2 linked regions of the Homo sapiens genome follow. The protein of the gene in region 2 purifies or fractionates together with the protein of the main gene of each other region. This does not show direct contact. Each region holds a gene or a part of one and is shown on either strand. Other genes may lie near its edges.

Region 1 (3,500 bases), about 100 Mb from region 2:
TGTCCGCTTGCGGGACCTGGGGCCCGGCAAATCCGTCCGCGCCATTGTGGATGTGCACTTTGACCCCAGTGAGACCTGCACCCTGGACCCTTCCTGGGAGGCAATGGGTGGGGGATGCCTGGGGCTCTGCCATGCTCAGAGCTCCCTCCTCCCCAGCCACAGCCTTCAGGGCACCCGACGTGGCCCGGGCCCTGCTCCGGCAGATCCAGGTGTCCAGGCGCCGGTCCTTGGGGGTGAGGCGGCCGCTGCAGGAGCACGTGCGATTTATGGACTTTGGTGAGCGCCAGGCCACGAGCCACAGCTTACCTGCCCCCTCCTCTGCCCATGCCCCTGCCCCTCACCCCTTCCTGGCCCTGCTCCCAGGAAACCCTAACAGCTCCCTGTGCCGGCAGACTGGTTTCCTGCGTTTATCACGGGGGCCACGTCAGGAGCCATTGCTGCGGGAGCCACGGCCAGAGCCACCACTGCATCGCGCCTGCCGTCCTCTGCTGTGACCCCTCGGGCCCCGCACCCCAGTCACACAAGCCAGCCCGTTGCCAAGACCACGGCAGCCCCCACCACACGTCGGCCCCCCACCACTGCCCCCAGCCGTGTGCCCGGACGTCGGCCCCCGGCCCCCCAGCAGCCTCCAAAGCCCTGTGACTCACAGCCCTGCTTCCACGGGGGGACCTGCCAGGACTGGGCATTGGGCGGGGGCTTCACCTGCAGCTGCCCGGCAGGCAGGGGAGGCGCCGTCTGTGAGAAGGGTAAGGATGTCCACTGCAGAGGAGGGCGGGGAGGCAGCAGGGTGGGGGCAAGGATTGGGGGTGGGGCTAAGCCACCATCAGGCTTTGAGTTGGGGGCAGGAGCCCGGATTAAGGCGGGGTTTCGGCCAGATGCGGTGGCTCACGCCTGTAATCCCAGCACTTTGGGAGGCCGAGGCAGGCGGATCACCTGAGGTCGGGAGTTCGAGACCAGCCTGACCAACATGGAGACACTCTGTCTCTACTAAAAATACAAAATTAGCCGGGCGTGGTGGTGGGCGCCTGTAATCCCACCTCGTGAGGCTGAGGCAGGAGAATCGCTTGAACCTGGCAGGCGGAGGTTGCGGTGAGCCAGGATCGCGCCACTGCACTCCAGCCGGGGCAAAAAGAGCAAAACTCCGTCTCAAAAAAAAAAAAAAAAAAAAAAGCAGGGGGCGGTTTCAGGGATAAAAGTGGGGAATCCTCGGAGCTTTTCCAGCCGGCCCTCCCGGTCGCCCTTTGCAGTGCTTGGCGCCCCTGTGCCGGCCTTCGAGGGCCGCTCCTTCCTGGCCTTCCCCACTCTCCGCGCCTACCACACGCTGCGCCTGGCACTGGAATTCCGGGCGCTGGAGCCTCAGGGGCTGCTGCTGTACAATGGCAACGCCCGGGGCAAGGACTTCCTGGCATTGGCGCTGCTAGATGGCCGCGTGCAGCTCAGGTGGGCGGGGAGGGGACGGGGCCGGGGCAGCTCAGGTGGGCGGGGAGGGGACGGGCGGGGGAGGGGGGGCCGGGGCAGCTCAGGTGGGTGGGGTGGGGACGGGGGCGGGGCAGCTCAGGTAGGCGGGGTGGGGACGGGGCCGGGCGATGGTCCTGAGCACCTGCTCCTGCCCTCAGGTTTGACACAGGTTCGGGGCCGGCGGTGCTGACCAGTGCCGTGCCGGTAGAGCCGGGCCAGTGGCACCGCCTGGAGCTGTCCCGGCACTGGCGCCGGGGCACCCTCTCGGTGGATGGTGAGACCCCTGTTCTGGGCGAGAGTCCCAGTGGCACCGACGGCCTCAACCTGGACACAGACCTCTTTGTGGGCGGCGTACCCGAGGACCAGGCTGCCGTGTGAGTCCCTTGGAGGGTGGTGTGGCCCCGACCCCGGCCCTTTGGGGTCCCGGTGTACGAGGTGGCTTTGCCTGTGGCCCCTGAGCCCTGACCCGGTGTCCCTCCTGGTGGCAGGGCGCTGGAGCGGACCTTCGTGGGCGCCGGCCTGAGGGGGTGCATCCGTTTGCTGGACGTCAACAACCAGCGCCTGGAGCTTGGCATTGGGCCGGGGGCTGCCACCCGAGGCTCTGGCGTGGGCGAGTGCGGGGACCACCCCTGCCTGCCCAACCCCTGCCATGGCGGGGCCCCATGCCAGAACCTGGAGGCTGGAAGGTTCCATTGCCAGTGCCCGCCCGGCCGCGTCGGTGAGGGTGGGGCCGGGGCGGGTGGGAGTGGGACCCCGGGGCCTGTGGGCGGTACCCAACCGACGCCTCCTGGGACCTCGGTCCCGGTCCCGTCTTCCTCCATCCAGGACCAACCTGTGCCGATGAGAAGAGCCCCTGCCAGCCCAACCCCTGCCATGGGGCGGCGCCCTGCCGTGTGCTGCCCGAGGGTGGTGCTCAGTGCGAGTGCCCCCTGGGGCGTGAGGGCACCTTCTGCCAGACAGGTCGGGGGCGTGGGGCTCTCGGGGCAGGGGGGGGGGGGGGGTTGAACGTTTGGGCGGGTACAGGTTCCAGGTAGCATTGCAGTTAGGATGCGGCTCAGTCTAGTCTGGGTTTTGAGTTAGGATCCACACACGGCTGGCATGGGGTGCAGGAGGCCCCGGGGGTCAGGACTGAGGCCTTGGTGACTCTCCCTACAGCCTCGGGGCAGGACGGCTCTGGGCCCTTCCTGGCTGACTTCAACGGCTTCTCCCACCTGGAGCTGAGAGGCCTGCACACCTTTGCACGGGACCTGGGGTCGGTGGGGCAGGAGCAGGGGGAAGGGCCGGCCCCCACCTCCGTCTCTCCTGTGGGGAGGGGACAGCAAAGACACCCCGACTCCCCATGACCCCAGGGAGAAGATGGCGCTGGAGGTCGTGTTCCTGGCACGAGGCCCCAGCGGCCTCCTGCTCTACAACGGGCAGAAGACGGACGGCAAGGGGGACTTCGTGTCGCTGGCACTGCGGGACCGCCGCCTGGAGTTCCGCTACGACCTGGGCAAGGGGGCAGCGGTCATCAGGTGGGCCGGCAAGGGTGGCTCTGGGAGGCCTGGGGCACTGGCCCGGGGCCGGGGCACCAGCAGGTCGCTCAGGCCCTGGGTGGTCGCGTGGCCGGTGGTGGACAGAGCCCACTCACGCTGCCCCTCCTCACCAGGAGCAGGGAGCCAGTCACCCTGGGAGCCTGGACCAGGGTCTCACTGGAGCGAAACGGCCGCAAGGGTGCCCTGCGTGTGGGCGACGGCCCCCGTGTGTTGGGGGAGTCCCCGGTGAGTGCTCTGGGCCGCGAGGGGACTCCCGCTGCTGCCTGCTCTTCCTCCTCGGGCGGCAGCCCCGCCCCTGCCGGCGCTCACGGAGCTGTTTTTCTGTCCTGTTCTCTTGGCCGCCTGCCCTGTCCTCTGCCTCCTCTGCCTCCCTGCTCTCTGCTCTCGCTCTGCAACCCCACCCGCTCTTCGGAGGCCAGAAATCCCGCAAGGTACTGTCGGCCTCTCATCCGCTCACCGTCTCTGGCGCCTCAACCCCTAGGGTAGCTCCTCCCCCACTAAGGACCC
Region 2 (3,500 bases):
ATATTCCACTTACATCAATCAACCTATAACCAAATCTAAAGTCTATTGCGGACCATATATTAAGGACTCCTAATAATAAAAAAGGCTTATCACGTTCCTTCACTCTTGCTGTTTCCTCTTCTCAGCTTTGTGAAAAATGAATATTGTATAAAGTTATCAGCATAGCTTCTCAAAACCAGCCCATCATTTTGGTCAAAGCTCCAATTTAAACTTGTCACCTTACAAGTTTACATCATAATTATATCCAAAAAGGCATATTTTACAAGTTTCTTAGGAAAAAATGTAAAACACGAAGAGTGGCTTCATAATATCAAAGCCCAACTGCATCAAGAAAAGAACTTTTAAACTAATCATGGAGAAGAGATCACATAGGGGAAAGATATATTTAAACAAAGAATCTACCAACAGATAAAACTGTTTTTTATGGCCAGTGTGCAAAGTATGGACTTCTTATGTCTTCACAAACTATGATAATGAGAAAGTAGTTTACATTCTTTTGAAGATTCAAAAATAATATTAAGGAGGGAAGGTCAGAAAAGGGATTTTCTCAAGTTACTCAATCAAGGCAGAGGGTCATGGAGAAAAGACCGCATTTAGGAATATAATTTCTCTACTGTTTCCCTTGGATTGCTCTCTGTCCCTCTGCTTATATTGATCTTCTTGCTCTTCTCAGTAGAGACTTCTAAAGAGTTTTTCAAAAGACCTTGACCCTCAATTAGCTATTGTAATATTTCTGCTGATGTTACTCATCCAGTAGCAAATCCACCTCAGTAGCTCATGAGTTAATTTTTTTTCTTTTCTATACTCAACATGCAAATAATATGAAGGGTAAAAAAAAATACAAAAGGAAATATGTAATATCTAGAATAGACCCCACTCACGAACAACTATTATTTTAAAAATGTTTAAAAATACTTACACACCATACCATAATGAGGTTTAATTTATCTCTGTTACTTTCTATAAGAGGTTGCAGATTATTTGGGGGAATCTAAAATACAGAAATAGCATAAGACCATCTCTATCTACAGTGCCAGGTAATTTCAATGGCAACATTCAAAAATGTTGCTGAAATAATAAAAAATTGATTTTTCCAAGAACATTGATTCTTTTTTGCTTTAAAAACAAGGTGTTGTAAAGCATGTATCACAGAGCTATGCCTTCTGTTATTTTCATACCAAGCCTTCAGAAGTATAAAAATAAGTTTAGAGAGAAGATTGCAGATGCTGTTGTATTCATGGTTTTGCCTCTCCCTGGAAAGCTTTTTTCCCTCTTCTCCATATGTCAAAATTTTACCTATATTTTAGGATGCAACTCAAGTACAACTTTTTCCACAAATTCTTCCCTGACATTCCTTGCACCCCAAGAGTGGATAATCCTGATAAACTAAGAACCCCTAGAATAAAATAATGATGTTTTATTTATATTTGTATCTTTAGCTACAGGTACTGTGTCTGATGCAGAATAGTTGTTCATGAACAAAAGTTGAATTGGATTTCCTCCCTACCCCAAATTTGCAAAACAATTCCTAATCACTCTTTTCTTTTTGAAATAGTATTTAGTGTACACATGCTTTTCTTACTTTATTAGTAGTTATTTTATTGTATCTCTCTTACTAAATTGTAATGTATTCATTTATTGTATTTTATCCCTTCTAATAAATTATAAGGGCAGGTTCAGTGCTTTGGGCACTATCCTATTCTTTCCTATCTAGCAGCTAGCACAGTGTCTTATTGATATAAGATATTTAATAAGTATTTTTTGCATGAAAAAATGAATATATGAAGAATACATAAGTCAAGGAACACCTAATAAACTTGAAATCCTGGGTTAAATGATTCATGAATATAATCTATGTTTTTGATCCATTTTTCCATCAGACAAGATACTGAGGCAGTGAAGTAAGACTGAGTTTAAGAACCTTTAAAGACTTAGAACTCTTATGCCAGGTTACTTATCTTGACTTACGCCAAAAATCAGCTTTCCTTAAATTTCTTGTTAATTTCCTGCACACCCCACTATCCTCAGTGCTATTTTTGACTTGTAGTAGCTCTCTAGGTTGCTGCAACTTCAATACTCCTGTGAATTATCTGTGTTTCATGATGCTTGGTGGCAAAGTTAGTATATCCTCTTAGTGTCCATTTCATTTGCATGGACTTATAAGTCCAAACATTTCATTAATGTGTACATGTTGTTTTGACTACTTTTATTGTATGTAATGTCTTAGCTTTATTTGATAAATTCATATATTACCTATATTTTTCCAACTCTTTTTAAAAGCTGACCTTTTTTTAAGTATCTAAAGGTTCTGTTTAAATTATTATCTTAGTATATACACTTATAATGGTACTGTGCCATATAAAGAAAAGCCATATTGCCTCCATTTTTCTACTACATTATTCCAAGAACATAGCACCACCATCAAGAATAATTTTTAATAATTAAAAACAAATATAAGTATAGTGGAGTCAGATTCATTGGATTTTAACTTCTAAATAGTATCAGAAATTAAATATTTTGTATGATTAACTTTGTAGGTTAAAATGCTCTGGAAAAAATGTCAGTAATAAAGTTGCTTAAATATTACAAATAAACAGACATCTATATAACCCCAAAGGGAGGACATAAATTGAATAGACAAGCCTATTAATTTTTCCAACTAAGTTGAAGATGATTAAGAAGAATTGCCCCTTGATGATTTAAATAATATTACTAGAGGGACCAATTCCAGATGGCAAGATTTCTTCAAATAGAGAATCAGTACTGGAAATGTTGATTAACTAGCACCAAAATGTCACTGGTAAAATATGACTTACAAAAGATGCCATCTCTTCTGGGAGTGATCTACATTTACGGCTGCATCGGGAATTATTTATCTGGAATCAGGACCAACAGTCATTATTTTTACATGTACGTAAGTTTTGTGTCATAATGAAATCTTCATACATATCACTGTAGTAAAAACAAACTGAAATATTATTTGGCTCAAGACTCTCTAAAGACCTCTTATTATACTTATTATTTATAGATGCTACAGATATATTCTACTCTTTATAAGTTGGGTACTAGAAACAGAGAATAAAATGACTTTCATTTGATTGATCTTAAAGTACTCAAGGACTATGCAGAAGGAAATGTAAAAAGAGTAATGCGAAGCTTACGCTGAAGAGATAGCTATTGTAATATAATGACCCCAAACTGAGCAGAAGACATTTGAGGGTAATGAATCAAGTGAATGGAATTAATTCATTGTTTATTCATTGCAACCCTCATTGATGCCAAAGCTTCATGACCTCTTTGTCGGTCAAATCAAGGTAAGACTCCATATCTAAATATTTGTTCTAAAACAAAAATAAAATAAGACTTTGATAAAATTACAAATGAGTTTATATGTAGCATGGAGGTGAGCACATTCAAATACAGTTAAAAGAAAAACAGTGAGGAAAGCTATTTGTTTACGTATCAGGGATGGTTTAAGTTGTTACAGATGATGATTCATT

Evidence for each region.
Region 1: the proteins of OLFM3 (region 2) and AGRN purify together in Homo sapiens (affinity purification with mass spectrometry; one large-scale study listed by BioGRID and IntAct). This does not show direct contact.

Annotation. Positions count from the first base shown.
Region 1 is NC_000001.11:1,047,620-1,051,119, forward strand, and holds part of AGRN (agrin isoform 2 precursor), read left to right. Parts: coding exon 1-68; intron 69-156; coding exon 157-276; intron 277-392; coding exon 393-746; intron 747-1,247; coding exon 1,248-1,440; intron 1,441-1,616; coding exon 1,617-1,832; intron 1,833-1,946; coding exon 1,947-2,176; intron 2,177-2,283; coding exon 2,284-2,418; intron 2,419-2,613; coding exon 2,614-2,710; intron 2,711-2,807; coding exon 2,808-2,972; intron 2,973-3,106; coding exon 3,107-3,218; intron 3,219-3,412; coding exon of another isoform or gene 3,413-3,424; intron 3,425-3,500. UniProt on the Homo sapiens protein: Isoform 1, isoform 4 and isoform 5: neuron-specific (z+) isoforms that contain C-terminal insertions of 8-19 AA are potent activators of AChR clustering.
Region 2 is NC_000001.11:101,986,927-101,990,426, reverse strand, and holds part of OLFM3 (noelin-3 isoform 2 precursor), read left to right. Parts: intron 1-3,500.